Linked DNA regions of Homo sapiens: regions 2, 3, 4 and 5 are each reported to be linked to region 1. Evidence: microRNA targets listed by miRTarBase, many of them from high-throughput screens and not tested one by one. Region 1 holds a microRNA gene; each other region holds the end of a gene's coding sequence.
Evidence for each region. The annotated mature microRNA hsa-miR-486-3p reads CGGGGCAGCUCAGUACAGGAU and lies in region 1 at 2,210-2,230, shown strand. An mRNA with a match to its seed (bases 2 to 7 or 8) in the 3' UTR can be bound and repressed. Matches are read on the target gene's strand: a 7mer-m8 pairs with bases 2 to 8, a 7mer-A1 pairs with bases 2 to 7 and ends in A, and an 8mer does both.

Region 1 (3,000 bases):
TCCCACTCAGAGCACACGGCAGATACAGAGTAAAGGGTTTGAAGATTTGGACAGGTGAATACGGGAATGGGTGGGTGAAAAAGAGATGCCCTCTGCCCTTAGGCTCATGGGAGTAGAATGGGGAAGAGCACAAACTCCCATCCATATCAAAAAGCAAAACAGAAGGCTGTGGGCTCGAGGGGGAGGTCACACCCAGTCACACCTTGGTCATGAAATGACACTGCCAAGGCCCCTTCAGGGCTGTCTAGCAGAGGGTTTTCCATTAAGCAATGGGGCAAAGGCTGTCCCTCTTCTTGGCCTCTCAAGGAGGGGCTCCTAGGACAAAAGCTACCTCCCCCTCGGAGCTCATTCCTGGGAACTGCTGTTCTGAAGCTCTGTCTTGAGGGCTTGACCAGCCCCCCCGCCTTTTTTTTTTTGACACAGAGTGTTGCTCTGTCAACCAGGCTGGAGTGCAGTGATGCAATCTCAGCTCACTGCAACCTCCATCCACCAGGTTCAAGTGATTCTCCTGCCACAGCCTCCTGAGTAGCTGGGATTACAGGCACCTGCCACCACACCGGGCTAATTTTTGTATTTTTAGTAGAGACAGGGTTTCACCATGTTGGCCAGGCTGGTCTCAAACTCCTGACCTCAGATGATCTGCACGTCAGCCTCCCAAAGTGCTGAGATTACAGACATGAGCCCCCGAGCCCGGCCTGACCAGCCCTTTCCTCCTTCCCTTCCTTTCCTAGATCATTCGCAAGGTGGTTCGACAGATAGACTTGTCCAGCGCCGATGCCGCCCAGGAGCACGAGGAGGTGACTGTAGAGGGGCCCCTGGAGGATCCCAGTGAGCTGGAGGTCGATATTGATTACTTTATGAAACACTCCAAGGTACTGAGGCGCCCGCGGCCCTGGGGGACCCAGCGCCATCACTGCTGCCTTGCTCTGCCGGGCCGTCTGCATGACACCTCCCTCCACTCACCTCTTTATGAGCTCTCTCTCCAGTCTCTCTTCTCCCTGGTGGGCAGTGTGTCTGCCACCTCCGTGTGGCCTCCTTTCGATCTTCTGCCTGTGTTCTGCCCGTCTTTGCGATCTGTCCTGCTTTCTGTCTCTGCTGCTGTCTGCAGGTGGAGCTGAGAGGGAGTGGCCTACAGCCGGACCTGATAGAGGGCAGGAAGGGGGCGCAGATAGTGAAGCGGGCCAGCCTGAAAAGGGGGAAACAGTGACCCCGAGCCGCTCTCCTTGGAGTAGCCTCTCGGGAGGTAACGCTGCCCTTCTCATCCCCTCTGCATGGCCTGGTCTTCAGTGGAGTGGCTGCTCCCTGTCTCACCCTATCCCCTCCCAGCCACCCCAGCATGATGTGGGACAAACAACTTGTTGTTGTGTCTCGAGGCAGAGATTCTCACTTCCCAACCCTGCTAACAGTTGGCTCTGAACCCCAGCTTCCTCATCAAGGAAACAGAGTTAATAATATCCACTTATCAGGGACCGCACGGTTTTGTAAGAATGCCTTTTGGGCCGGGCACAGTGGCTCATGTCTGTAATCCCAGCATTTTGTGAGGTCGAGGCAAAAGGATTGCTTTAGGCCAGGAGTTCAAGACCAGCCTGGGCAACAGAGCAAGACCCCATCACAAAAAAAAGAAAAAAAAAAGCCAGAAAGAAAAAAATGCTCTTTGAAAAGTAAAAGCACTCTGTAAATCTAAGTGGTAATATTATCTTGGAAACCAAGCAATGGGGATCTAGAAAGCAGTGGACAGGGCATTGAAGAGGACAGGAGAGTTGGTCTGGGCTGTGATGCTTCAACATAAGAGCTCCAAGACTGAGGACTGGACTGTCTCTTGAACCTGGAGCCCAGCTACAGTTCTCACCAGGCCAAGGCTTAGCTTCTCTTTGGTGTTTTGTGAAACACGTTGCTCCCTTGCTTTCTAGGAAAGGGCTGAGCCGACAGGCCTAAGGGGTGGACGACGTGCTTTCTGCAAGTCAGGAGACCGTCAGGGTTGGGGCCGGGGCCTGGGCTGTGGTGCATGTGTGTGAGCATGGGGCAGTGTGGCCACAGAGCAGGGGCATGCCGTGCCGTGCCGTGCCATGAGGAAGGGACATGAAGACGCTGTGCGACCATCTCCAGCAGGTGTGTGTGGTGCTGGGGGCTTCAGCGGCCGGCTCTGATCTCCATCCTCCCTGGGGCATCCTGTACTGAGCTGCCCCGAGGCCCTTCATGCTGCCCAGCTCGGGGCAGCTCAGTACAGGATACCTCGGGGTGGGAGTCAGCAGGAGGTGAGGGGGCATGGTGGCCCCAGTGCAGCACTAACCAGGCCGTTACCATTCACACCCCAGGGCCTGACTCTGGGACCGAGCAGCAAGGAGGCTCTAGCTTTCTGCATTCGGCAAAAATCAGGGCCCGCTGCCTCCTGAGCCACCAAAAGTGCTGACTCTGGGCTTCCCAATATATCTCAGCACTTGGGCAAAAAAGAGGACTGGCAGATCCAGTTATAGGATAAAATTAGACCTGACACCTCAGCAGCTTAAGGAGGTCACCGTGTTAACCCCTGCACTGCCAGGGGTCCCACTAGGCTGCTGGTTTAGAAGACTCTGAGTAGCTGCTGTTGGGTCCTGGAAAGAACCCAAAGATGCAAATAATGTTTAAAAGCAGCAAAGGGAAAGGAAAAGTACACTTTTCTGACTTATTTTTCTTATGGTAGCAGTGGCGGCTGTGGCTTTAAATTTCTCTTTGGCTCAGGCTCTATGGATGCTCCTGAGTGGGAGAGAGGCAGCCCGAAAGCCAGGCTAGGGGGAAGGAGGGAGCCTTGAATTTCATTTTAATTTGCCGTAAGTGATCTGCAATGTGGCTGAAGCCCCCCAACCTCAGGTGATTAAGGACCGGACCACACTAGCATGGGTGTCAGAAACACGGAGCAGCCTGGCTCTGGGACAGCACTTGGCCCTCTGTCAGTGACAGGCACAGGGACAAGTGTGAGGGTGGCAGGGGGGTGGGGCGGTGGGGCGAGAGCAGTGGTGAGGG
Region 2 (3,000 bases), not on the chromosome of region 1:
GCGGGGCTTCGTGCTGGCGCCTCTGTTCGTCTACCTCTTCATAGGCACGTCCTTCTTGCTGGCCGGCTTCGTGTCCCTCTTCCGTATCCGCACCATCATGAAACACGACGGCACCAAGACCGAGAAGCTGGAGAAGCTCATGGTGCGCATCGGCGTCTTCAGCGTGCTCTACACAGTGCCCGCCACCATCGTCCTGGCCTGCTACTTCTACGAGCAGGCCTTCCGCGAGCACTGGGAGCGCACCTGGCTCCTGCAGACGTGCAAGAGCTATGCCGTGCCCTGCCCGCCCGGCCACTTCCCGCCCATGAGCCCCGACTTCACCGTCTTCATGATCAAGTACCTGATGACCATGATCGTCGGCATCACCACTGGCTTCTGGATCTGGTCGGGCAAGACCCTGCAGTCGTGGCGCCGCTTCTACCACAGACTTAGCCACAGCAGCAAGGGGGAGACTGCGGTATGAGCCCCGGCCCCTCCCCACCTTTCCCACCCCAGCCCTCTTGCAAGAGGAGAGGCACGGTAGGGAAAAGAACTGCTGGGTGGGGGCCTGTTTCTGTAACTTTCTCCCCCTCTACTGAGAAGTGACCTGGAAGTGAGAAGTTCTTTGCAGATTTGGGGCGAGGGGTGATTTGGAAAAGAAGACCTGGGTGGAAAGCGGTTTGGATGAAAAGATTTCAGGCAAAGACTTGCAGGAAGATGATGATAACGGCGATGTGAATCGTCAAAGGTACGGGCCAGCTTGTGCCTAATAGAAGGTTGAGACCAGCAGAGACTGCTGTGAGTTTCTCCCGGCTCCGAGGCTGAACGGGGACTGTGAGCGATCCCCCTGCTGCAGGGCGAGTGGCCTGTCCAGACCCCTGTGAGGCCCCGGGAAAGGTACAGCCCTGTCTGCGGTGGCTGCTTTGTTGGAAAGAGGGAGGGCCTCCTGCGGTGTGCTTGTCAAGCAGTGGTCAAACCATAATCTCTTTTCACTGGGGCCAAACTGGAGCCCAGATGGGTTAATTTCCAGGGTCAGACATTACGGTCTCTCCTCCCCTGCCCCCTCCCGCCTGTTTTTCCTCCCGTACTGCTTTCAGGTCTTGTAAAATAAGCATTTGGAAGTCTTGGGAGGCCTGCCTGCTAGAATCCTAATGTGAGGATGCAAAAGAAATGATGATAACATTTTGAGATAAGGCCAAGGAGACGTGGAGTAGGTATTTTTGCTACTTTTTCATTTTCTGGGGAAGGCAGGAGGCAGAAAGACGGGTGTTTTATTTGGTCTAATACCCTGAAAAGAAGTGATGACTTGTTGCTTTTCAAAACAGGAATGCATTTTTCCCCTTGTCTTTGTTGTAAGAGACAAAAGAGGAAACAAAAGTGTCTCCCTGTGGAAAGGCATAACTGTGACGAAAGCAACTTTTATAGGCAAAGCAGCGCAAATCTGAGGTTTCCCGTTGGTTGTTAATTTGGTTGAGATAAACATTCCTTTTTAAGGAAAAGTGAAGAGCAGTGTGCTGTCACACACCGTTAAGCCAGAGGTTCTGACTTCGCTAAAGGAAATGTAAGAGGTTTTGTTGTCTGTTTTAAATAAATTTAATTCGGAACACATGATCCAACAGACTATGTTAAAATATTCAGGGAAATCTCTCCCTTCATTTACTTTTTCTTGCTATAAGCCTATATTTAGGTTTCTTTTCTATTTTTTTCTCCCATTTGGATCCTTTGAGGTAAAAAAACATAATGTCTTCAGCCTCATAATAAAGGAAAGTTAATTAAAAAAAAAAAGCAAAGAGCCATTTTGTCCTGTTTTCTTGGTTCCATCAATCTGTTTATTAAACATCATCCATATGCTGACCCTGTCTCTGTGTGGTTGGGTTGGGAGGCGATCAGCAGATACCATAGTGAACGAAGAGGAAGGTTTGAACCATGGGCCCCATCTTTAAAGAAAGTCATTAAAAGAAGGTAAACTTCAAAGTGATTCTGGAGTTCTTTGAAATGTGCTGGAAGACTTAAATTTATTAATCTTAAATCATGTACTTTTTTTCTGTAATAGAACTCGGATTCTTTTGCATGATGGGGTAAAGCTTAGCAGAGAATCATGGGAGCTAACCTTTATCCCACCTTTGACACTACCCTCCAATCTTGCAACACTATCCTGTTTCTCAGAACAGTTTTTAAATGCCAATCATAGAGGGTACTGTAAAGTGTACAAGTTACTTTATATATGTAATGTTCACTTGAGTGGAACTGCTTTTTACATTAAAGTTAAAATCGATCTTGTGTTTCTTCAACCTTCAAAACTATCTCATCTGTCAGATTTTTAAAACTCCAACACAGGTTTTGGCATCTTTTGTGCTGTATCTTTTAAGTGCATGTGAAATTTGTAAAATAGAGATAAGTACAGTATGTATATTTTGTAAATCTCCCATTTTTGTAAGAAAATATATATTGTATTTATACATTTTTACTTTGGATTTTTGTTTTGTTGGCTTTAAAGGTCTACCCCACTTTATCACATGTACAGATCACAAATAAATTTTTTTAAATACAAAATGAACATTTATTTAGTTTACTATTCCTGTAATATTAAACCAAAGAAGAGAAAGAAGGAAAGTATGGGAAAATAGTATGGAGGGACAACATTGGGTGTGTCCCTCAAAGAGAATGGTGTATATTATTGAGGTCTTTTTTGCTCCCGCCTTTAAGATAGAGTATAATGAATGCCTTGACTGTCATTTAATTTTTTTTTTCCTGTTGTTGCTGCTTCCTGCCTTCCTCCACACCACCCCACTACATACCCCTAAGCCTTTTTACATCCTGCTTTGGATGACTATTGAAGGTATTGAATAAGCATCTCTTTTAGAGAAGTGCTGTCTGATCTATGTTTTTACTGCCCTTAGGAGATGAAATCCATATTCAAAAGGGACTAGAAGATAGTGTTTATATTTGCTGCTTTTTTTGGTAGTGTTTCCCTTGTGAAGAATACAGTGAGTTTTTGGGTGTTTGGTTTTTTGTTTTTTT
Region 3 (3,000 bases), not on the chromosome of region 1:
AATAAACAAAAATGTGAGTCCCTCCCAGGGAAATTCCAGGCACCTAGCTAGCTCTACAACCATGAATTGGGGAAATGAATGAATAACCCGCTAAGCAAGAAAGTAATAATAGCTTAAACAATAGTCACTCAAGTAGTAGTCACAGAATGTTAGCTTCCTCATAGAAACTAAAGATAACATCTTTTTGTTTGTTTTGTTTTTTGGGTTGTTTGTTTGTTTTGAGACAAAGTCTTACTCTGTTGCCCAGGCTGGAATGCAGTGGCACGATCTCAGCTCATTGCAACCTCCGCCTCCCAGGTTCAAGCAATTCTCCTGCTTCAGCCTCCCTAGTAGCTGGGACTACAGGGGCCCGCCACCACACCCAGCTAATTTTGTATTTTTAGTAGAGATGGGGTTTCACCATGTTGGCCAGGCTGGTCTTGAACTCCTGACCTCAGGTGATCCACCCACCTCGGCCTCCCAAAGTGCCGGGATTACAGGCATGAGCCACCATGCCTGGCCTAAAGATAACATCTTGACATATATCCTTGAGTTGTTTTTCAGGAGCCAGGACCCCCACCAATGTCACCACGTGACAATGCCAGCACGTAGACCTCAGACAGACTGGAACCAGAAAATGGATAAGGAAGTTCCAGAAATTCCTCAGCCCCTAACTCCCTTTGAAACCTCCCCACCCCTGCCTTAAAAACCCTTGCTTAAAAGCCATCAGGGAGTTTGAGCCTTAGCTGCCCATTCTCCTCGCCTGGTGCTCTGCAATAAACGCCTTACTTTCTCTGGCTGCAAATCTCACTGTCGGTGTTAGGCTTTGCAAACACTGGGCAAGTGGACCCAGGCTGGGTTTGACAACAACCTCAAAGAAGGCTGAAACCCTGGTGTGTGGAGTGTGGAAGCTGAGTGCTGTCTTAGCTGCAGGGAACAGCCTCCCCTCCCAGAGGCTCCTTCATCTGTCCAACCTCTGAAGGACTACTGGAGGCACAGTCCAAGTATAACCAAAGTCCGTTTAACACCCAGCACCCCTCAAAAGAGCTCATAGTGCTTGCTGTAGTTTCATAAAGGCCCAGGTGGTGAGAAAGATTAGGTGTTGCTGGGCCCATCTAGGAGGGCAAGTGACCAAGAACATAAATCTTGGGACCAAGCTGAGAGCATTCCACCCACCACAGTTCTCTGGAGCTTCGGCCCACCACCCAGAGAATTAGCCCAACTGCCTGGGTATGCTCAGGGAAGAACTGAGGCAGGGGGCCAGAGCTCAGCAAGCTGGGCATGTGGCCTGTGGCCAGAGCCCCACCCACAGCCCCCCGTCCTTCTAGGGAGGAGAGCATGCTGCTCCTCCTGACATGTCGCAGCTCCCCCAGAAAAAGTAACACTCCCCAGCCACCAGTTCTAAAACCAAATCTTTATTCTCTAGTTTGAAAAGGAGGGGTAAATGGTTGTTCTGTTTAGTTCCAGAGAACAGAACAAGGCCCAATAGGTAGAAATTATAGGAAAGCAGAATTCATTCATTATAAGGAAGGATTTCTAACAATTAGAATTTCTAACAATTAGAATCATCCAGGGCCTCAGGAGGTGCGGAAGTTCCTGTCACCTAAGTGCTCAAGCAGAGGCCAGGTGTCCATATGCTAGAAATGGAGAAAAGGAAACTCACCAGCAACTTCCCCTCAGCTGGCCCTCCATCACCAATGCGGCAGTCCTTGCCGTGACATGCTGAGCTCTGGAAGGAGCGAAGGAGGGGCTGCGGTGTTCAGACAAGAGCCTGGACACAGTGCTGCTGACAGCCAGGGGAGGCTCTCAGCGCTGGGAGGGGCGACAGATAAAGCGAGACAGACCAAGGAGTAAATGCCTTGGGATCTGCTCTTTGGGAAGGAAGAGGATGGAAGTATTAACAGCAGACGGGTCTCTCCAAGTCTGGGTGCCTACGCAGGGGGCAGGTGGGAGGGGAAGGGAGAGGTAAGAGTGGCTTCGCTTCACCTCTTGCTGCTGGCAAAGGCCCAAGTGCTGTCTAACAAGGCCAGCAGGTTCTCCAAGCTGTATCTAGCCCAGAGCATTCATTTACAGGACTCTACCACGCCTGCTTCCAAAAATGATCTTAAGTAACTTACAGTAAAAGACAGGGGCATTAAGGCGTTAATACCAGAGGATGGAGGGTCTTCCTTTCCACTGGTGGCTCCTCTAGCCAGAGGGCTCTAAGGGGCGGATGCTATTGCTGCTTTTCCAGGGCACAGGGCAGTCAGGACGGAGCCTTAGCACACACCAGCTGGAGGCCGGCGTCCCTGCGCTTGGAAGTGGGTTCCCTGGCCACCGGGGTTGACCTCTCTCGCTAGCAGGGCCCACCCAGCTCACTCCCCGCGTCTTCCATCCCCTCTAGGATTCCCATTGTCCCCTACTCCAGCACTAGGCAGGCACCCCCAGCCCACTGCGACTCCCACCACGAAGGACCCCAGCCCTCTCTCAGCCAACACGGCCCCGCCCACCGTCTCAGACATCGTGCTTCTTCTGGTGGGCCAGGAGTCTCTCCTCGTCGTCGAAGGTCTGGCCACAGATGGCACAGCAGAAGGCGCCGTCCCGGATGTGGCTCTTGCGGTGGGTGATGAGGTTGGACTTCTGGCTGAAGCTGCGGTCGCAGTCGGGACAGGCGTAGGGCCGCTCGCCCGTGTGGATGCGCCGGTGCGACACCAGGTTGGACTTCTGGCTGAAGGCTTTGCCGCAGTCGGGGCAGACGTAGGGCTTCTCGCCGGTGTGGATGCGCCGGTGCGCCGCCAGGTAGGGTTTGTGGCGGAAGGCCTTGCCGCAGTCGGGACACACGAAGGGCCGATCGGGGGCGTGGTCGCGCCGATGCGCCGCCAGATGGCTGCCCTGGGAGAAGCGGCGGCCGCACTCCTCGCAGGCGAAGGGCCGCTCGCCGGAGTGCACGCGCGAGTGCGCCACCAGGTGCGTCTTCTTGCCGAAGTTCTTCCCGCACTCGGCGCAGGTGAAGGGCCGCTCCCCGGTGTGCTGCCGCTGGTG
Region 4 (3,000 bases), not on the chromosome of region 1:
ATGGAGCGGCCGCCTAGCCTCACCTTGCCGTGGGTGAGCAGCTCCAATGCAGGTGAACTACAGGGCCGACGGCAAGTGCCACAAGAACCCATGTTCCTTTCTTTACCTGGGACCCACGCCGTGCCTACTGGGCACGGAGCTGCTGCCCAAAACACATTTGTAGAATGAGTGAGTGAGGGGTGGGCAATGACTACCTGAGTGCATGAATCAGTAACGGACAGCGTGTGACACCAAAGCACAGGTCAGGTGTTGGGTCCGGTGCAGGCTGATGTCAAGGTGGTCATGTGAGCTCGCTCAGTTCTGTATTACAAAGTGGGATGAGTAGTGCAGAGCTGGGATTTGAGCCTGGCTCCTCGCCCCTGCATCTTTGCTCATGCCTGGGAGGGCAGCTCCAGTGAGTTAACACATGGCTTGGGGATTCCCCCCTCCACACACAGTCATACAAGGCAGGCAGGCAAGCTCTCCTTTCCACAGGGCAGGAAGCCAAGGGTCAGAGAGGTTAGTCCACTTGCCCAGGGTCACACAGCCTTAAGGGGCAGGGTGGAAACTTGCCCTGAATCTTTCTTGCTATAGGTGTCAGCTCCTGCCACCATATACTGGAGCAGGTAGAAGAGGCTGACCCGAGACTCAGTGTGCCCGACTTATGGGGCACCGAGCTGCCAATTCTACCAGACAGGGCACCTCCCATCCTCCCAGGCCTCCAGAAGTGCCCAAGGCCAGAGCTCCACAGAAGGACCCTAGGAGAAGTGAGCAATGCTTCCTCAGTCTTTGCTAACCCAGCCCACTCTGAACTGCCAAGGTTCACCCCCTCCTTTCGAGTGACCTGAAATTTCAAAAACTGACATGCAATACCAATTATCTAAGCAAGGCTCTGGCCACTTGAGAACACGCTTTTTTGATCCACAATCACTCCCTAGTCCTCTAACAAATCCTCCAGGATCTGTAGACCATCAGTGGCCCTGGTTTCTAAACCCCCTGCCTCCAGATGAGGCCCCAGGACCCTCCTCAAGCACATCAGGGTGTGAAAGGGCAGATTAAGGGCTCTAACTGGAAATCCGAATTTCTCCTTCAAGTCCCCCTCTACTATGAAACCCCCAAGTCAAAGACGCCTGCAGCTTGCCGCCTCCAATCGCTCCTGAGTAATCGCAGCCTTCAGCCAGGTTGAAAATACCCCTTTGGGACCCTCACTGCGGCCTCCCAAGGCCCCAGGAACATGGGTCCTCAGGACCTGGGCTGTGGGTCCAGGAAACCAGTCGCCATGGTCGAGCCCCCTTCTGATCATGAACAACAGCGCTCACCTGGCAGGGCGGCTGCAGCGGCTCTACCGGACCAAGCCCCTCGGGCACGCGCACTGCCTGAAATGCCCTAAGCGCTCGGCTGGACTGTGGCATACCCGCCCTCTCCCCCAGCCCCTGGCTGGCTCGTCTGCCTGGCCCCTGCAGCAGAGACAGCTGAGCGCACCATCCTCCTCCCGTAGGGGGCGGGGGGTCCTGTCCCCGGAGCGGCAGCCGCCGGGACCTCATCTCCCAGCCTCCTTCGCAGGGAGCCGCAACCACGGGACCAGCCCCGTGAACGACCCAGGTAGGGGGACGTGCGCCCTTTGCAGTCAGAGTCTCCCCCAGAAGCTGGAGGCAGGAGGAGGGTGCTTTTGGGGTTAGGGGCGGGGGCCACACGATAGGAGTGGAGGAAGCCAGCCGCCCCTGTGAGAGGGTGGTAGAAGCCGTGGGGGCTCCTTCCCCTGCAGCGGGCAGGCCTGGCCCTGACCAGTCCGCCCTGCCCCATCTACAAGCAGCTCCCAGGCCCTGTGAGTGCCCGCACCATAGTGAGGATATCCGCGGACAGGCCCCCCTGCCTAGAGCCCTCCGCGGGCGACCCAACGGGCCACTCCCGGGGCGCGGCTGACGCTCTGCTGATGCCCCGGCGAGAGCCTCCGTTTACCCCTCTTGCCCTTCTCCCTCCCGGACTCAAGAACCACGCAGAGGGGGACATTTGGATAGTGCCGTTTATTGTTCCAGCACCCCTTCCTCCACCACGCCCAGGCCTGGGACAAACGGGCACCCGCCTCCTGCGGCGCTGCCTCTGCTACCCGGAATCCAGGAGGGGAAGGAACGACTCGAGCTCTAAGGATGGGACCCGGAAGGCAGAAAAAAATAATGGATTGGGGCGGGCGGGGAGTCAAAAGGTGGGCTGATTAAAAGAAAATTCTAAAAGAGAAAAGGGCCCCTGGTTCTCTTCCCTCTCTGGGATCCTCTAAAGGGCCTGGTTTCTCCATTCCTCGCAGCACCCCCCACCCCCGCCCCGGACAACTGAGGAAGAGCAGGGAAAATGGCCTTCCGCTTGGGGCCTGGTCGCCACTCGGCCTCTGCAGTTCTCTCCATTGTCTCTCCGGCTCGCAGGCCGATAACTTAGGAAGGGCGGGCCAGGCTGAGGGGGCAGAGTCTCGAGGCGGAGAAGTGAACGGGCCCTAATACGCCCCAGTGCCCCCCCACGGACGGCGCAGGGACAGAGGAGGGCGGGGAGCCGGGGATGCCGCGGGGTCCATCGCACCCCGTCCGCTTCTCCCTGGGTCTCTTGGTCTTGCACGTCGTCGCTCCCGCCAAGCCCGAGGGGCCCTGCCCGCCCCCCCCCCCGGGCCCCTCCCCTACCGGCCCTCCCCACCGCGGCACTCGGGGCACCGCCCGCCCGCGGCCTCGTCGTCGTCGTCCTCCTCCTCCCCGCCCGCGCGGTAGTAGCTCTGTCCGCAGCTGCTGCAGACCGAGGGCGCGCCCACCGCGTGGATCTTCTTGTGTCTCCGGAGCGCGGCGCCCTGCACGAAGCCCTCCCCGCACTCCACGCAGATGTGGGCCGGCTCCTCGCCCCCCGCCGCCCCGAGCCCGTCCCCGTGCTGGGCCCGCTGGTGCGCCAGGAGCCCGGCCCCGTGCCCGAAGCCCTTCCCGCACTCCAGACACACGTACGGCTTGGGGGCCGGGGCGCGCCGCGACCGGGGCCCCGCGGCCTTTG
Region 5 (3,000 bases), not on the chromosome of region 1:
CTTGTCACCCCTATCTAATGGATAAGGAAAGTAAGGCTCAGAGGTATGAAGGACATGGACACAGGTTAGCAGCAGAGCCAGGATTGAAAGTCAAGTGTCCTCACCCCCAGCACAGGCTCCTCCTGCTGCCCAGGGTCTGCAAAGCTCCAGGCTGTCCCAGTGCCAGGACACTGTCATCCAGGGGCAAGCGAACGCAGTATCCTAGGCAGGTTCCCATAGCCCTGAATCTGGCTCTCTGGAAGCCTGTGCGCCTCCTCTCAGTCTTTCAAAATGGAAGGTAGTTAAAACCTCAGTCCTATTTTTCTTTTCTTTTTTTTTTTTCTTTAGAGACAGAGTCTTGCTCTGTTGCCCAGGCTGGAATGCAGTGGTACAATTACAGCTCATGGCAACTTCGACCTCCTGGGCTGAAGATCAAGTGATTCTCCCACCTCAGCCTCCTGAGTAATAGGACTACAGGTGTGTGCCTGTAGTTAATTTTTTATTTGTGCAGAGACAGGGTCTTGTTATGTTGCCCGGGCTAGTCTTGAAATCCTGGCCTTAAGCGATCCTCCCACCTCAGCCTCCTGAGTAACTAGGACTACAGGTGGGTGCCACCGCACCTCGCTAATTTTTTATTTCTGTGCAGAGACAGGGTCTTGCTATGTTGCCCAGGCTAGTCTTGAAATCCTGGCCTTAAGCGATCCTCCCACCTCAGCCTCCCAAAGTGTTGGGATTACAGGCATGAGCCACTATGCATAGGTGGCTATTTTTTGTACAAGAAAGCCAAGGCTCAGAGAAGGTAAATGTCCTGCTCAGGGTCATAGGGCAGAACTATGTCCTGGGAATGGACCTCTGATCCCTGGCCTGGTGCCCATCCAATTGAGTCAGCCAGAAACAGCATTCAGAACTCTTTTCCTGGTGCCAGCTTCTTACTGGGTCTCAGCTTCACAGTCTCTAAAATGGGTTCATTAGTAGAGGCCCTAAACAAGCCTAGGTTTGAGTTTTCTGAGGCAAAGAAATTGAGTGATGCTTCCAGTGGGAGGAGCCCCATACAGTGACCAAAGGGCCTGGCTTTCTGGACAACCAACTTCACTTTACCCAGAGGGAAACTGAAGCCAAGGAGGGAGCCAAATGGCCTTGGGGATCCAGTGATTTAAGGACGGTGAGATAAGGAGGGCCAGGCTTCCCTACCCCAGCCTGCAACATCCAGGAGAGAATCCTGCTGGTTGAGTCCTGGGGCCCACCCTGCTTCCAAACACTTCACAGAGAAAAAGCTTTTTACAAAGACATTTATTTTCCCCAAAATATACCCCCAGTTTACAAAATCCCTCCGAGTCCCACATTTAAATTAGAAGTCCTCACATCTTCCATTCCTGGGGCAGGGAGAGATGACATCCGGAAGGCATCAGAACGTCTGAAGTCTCACTCTACCAGAGGCCAGGAGCTGGCCAGAGGCAAGCCAGGAAAAGACTGCCCCAGCCCCAGAATAGCACCATGGTGGGGGTGGGGGGCAGTCCCCTCGGTGTCCCCAAAGCATTCCTGGCCCTGCCCTGCCCCAGGCTCTGCCTTTTCTGCTGCTATGAAAGGTCCAGAGGGCCTTGGTGCCTGCCCACCTGCCCACACCTGGACAGACATTTTGGACACCACCAGATTCTCTAGCCGTGGCGAGGGGCTATGTCCCTCTCTCCAGGTTTCCGCCCCAACCCCATGCTCTGGGTAAGAATTATGGGTGGGATGGGGGTGAGGTATCCAGGAAGCCTTGAGCCACAGAGGAGGTGTGGAGCAGGGAGCCAGGCAGGAGCCCCCTGCAAACCGCAGGGTGCAGTGTAGTTAGTTGTCTGTCTCCCAGCTGGATGGGGAGTCCTTGAGGGAGGAACTTTATCTTCCCACGCAGGGCCCCCAGCACCTAACACAGTGCTGACATCTGTAGTTGCTCAATAAACATCAACTGAATGGATACATGAAAAGAAAGGAACAAAGAGGTGAGAAGGCAGAGGGACAGAAGCTGACCCCCAGGGGCCCCATCACAGACCCCTGGAGAACCAGTGTGACCAGCACATGCTTCCGTGGGGAGGATGGGCAGGGGAGAGGGGCACTGCAGAGGAGGCTGGGCCAGGGGGGAACCACACGTGTTCCAGCACGTGCACCTGCAGGTCTCCATGCACAGCTGTGCATGTGGTGGGCGCAGAGTGCCCTGTCTTCACTTGGGGCAGGGAGGGAAAAGGCCAGTATTAAGGCTAGAGCAAGAGGAGGAAGGAGGGGAAAGGAAACAGCTTCTAGACTCCAGGAGATGTTGAGGCCGCACTGTCCCTGTCTGAGAAGAAAAGATTCTATGCAGGTGGAAGCAGGGCTGAACATGATCACTAGTGTATCACGGCCATTGGAGAAACAAGGCCGGGGTGACTATGCATCGTGTCTTTGGTGAAATAAGGCAGGGGGTCAGTCAGTCTGAATATTGCATCTTTTGGAGAAAAAAGGCAGCCAGATGGTCCACGCAGCACTGGAAGAAGAGGGTGGTGATGTGGTCAGTGTACTGTGTCCCTAAGAAATGTATGTACTGTGAAATAAGGCAGCAGGCAGGATGACTTAGAGAACTAAGGTTGTGGGTGGTCTGTTCATTGTGTCTATAAGAAAAAAGGCAGCAGGATGACTTGGGAATCATGTCCATTGGAGAAATAAGGCTGCACAGTGGTCTGTGTATCGCATCCTTTGGAGAAGGAGCCCACCTGTCAGAGCAGGATGCATCTGTTGGGGGCAGGGCTCACAGTGCAGCCCCATTGCAGCCAGAGGGTAGGAGCTGTAGGGAGGGGTAGCAGCTCCCTGGTCCTCATGGTCAGGCTATTTCTTGTCCATCATCTTCATTTCATGATGGGAAGAAAAAAAAGGGAAGGGAAAAGCATTAGATGCCAGAAGATCTATTTTTGGGATTATGCCAGAAGCCCAAGCACCTGGTCAGACTTCAAGTGGGGAGTGTGTGTGAGACAGCAGCCCAACGGACAGCCCCCGTGCTGACCACGGCCC

Region 2: the mRNA of FZD7 is a reported target of hsa-miR-486-3p. Seed matches in the 3' UTR shown: 7mer-m8 at 1,036-1,042.
Region 3: the mRNA of REPIN1 is a reported target of hsa-miR-486-3p. Seed matches in the 3' UTR shown: 7mer-m8 at 1,919-1,925.
Region 4: the mRNA of ZNF787 is a reported target of hsa-miR-486-3p. Seed matches in the 3' UTR shown: 7mer-m8 at 2,430-2,436.
Region 5: miRTarBase lists CD276 as a target of hsa-miR-486-3p. Seed matches in the 3' UTR shown: 7mer-m8 at 2,731-2,737, 8mer at 2,185-2,192, 7mer-m8 at 1,487-1,493 and 8mer at 1,354-1,361.

The regions. Positions count from the first base shown.
Region 1 is chr8:41,659,673-41,662,672 of GRCh38, reverse strand. It overlaps MIR486-1 (microRNA 486-1), which reads left to right and starts at 2,165; the gene lies at 2,165-2,232. ANK1 (ankyrin 1) reads left to right here. Exons shown (of 43, transcript NM_000037.4): 41 at 732-797; 42 at 1,109-1,243. The coding sequence ends at 1,207. It overlaps MIR486-2 (microRNA 486-2), which reads right to left and starts at 2,229; the gene lies at 2,166-2,229.
Region 2 is chr2:202,035,910-202,038,909 of GRCh38, forward strand. It overlaps FZD7 (frizzled class receptor 7), which reads left to right. Exons shown (of 1, transcript NM_003507.2): 1 at 1-2,532. The coding sequence ends at 463. Among named protein-coding and RNA genes, the nearest start is that of FZD7, 3.6 kb to the left of the region's middle. RefSeq lists an enhancer at 2,696-3,000.
Region 3 is chr7:150,372,418-150,375,417 of GRCh38, reverse strand. It overlaps REPIN1 (replication initiator 1), which reads right to left. Exons shown (of 3, transcript NM_001099695.2): 3 at 1,379-3,000. The coding sequence ends at 2,473. REPIN1-AS1 (REPIN1 antisense RNA 1) reads left to right here and starts at 2,475. Exons shown (of 4, transcript NR_183429.1): 1 at 2,475-2,577. RefSeq lists enhancers at 1,751-1,900, 1,961-2,080.
Region 4 is chr19:56,085,382-56,088,381 of GRCh38, forward strand. It overlaps ZNF787 (zinc finger protein 787), which reads right to left. Exons shown (of 3, transcript NM_001002836.4): 3 at 1,985-3,000. The coding sequence ends at 2,642. Among named protein-coding and RNA genes, the nearest start is that of LINC01864, 20 kb to the left of the region's middle. RefSeq lists enhancers at 1-131, 132-631, 967-1,566.
Region 5 is chr15:73,712,769-73,715,768 of GRCh38, reverse strand. CD276 (CD276 molecule) reads right to left here. Exons shown (of 10, transcript NM_001024736.2): 10 at 1,255-2,835. The coding sequence ends at 2,813. Among named protein-coding and RNA genes, the nearest start is that of CD276, 30 kb to the right of the region's middle.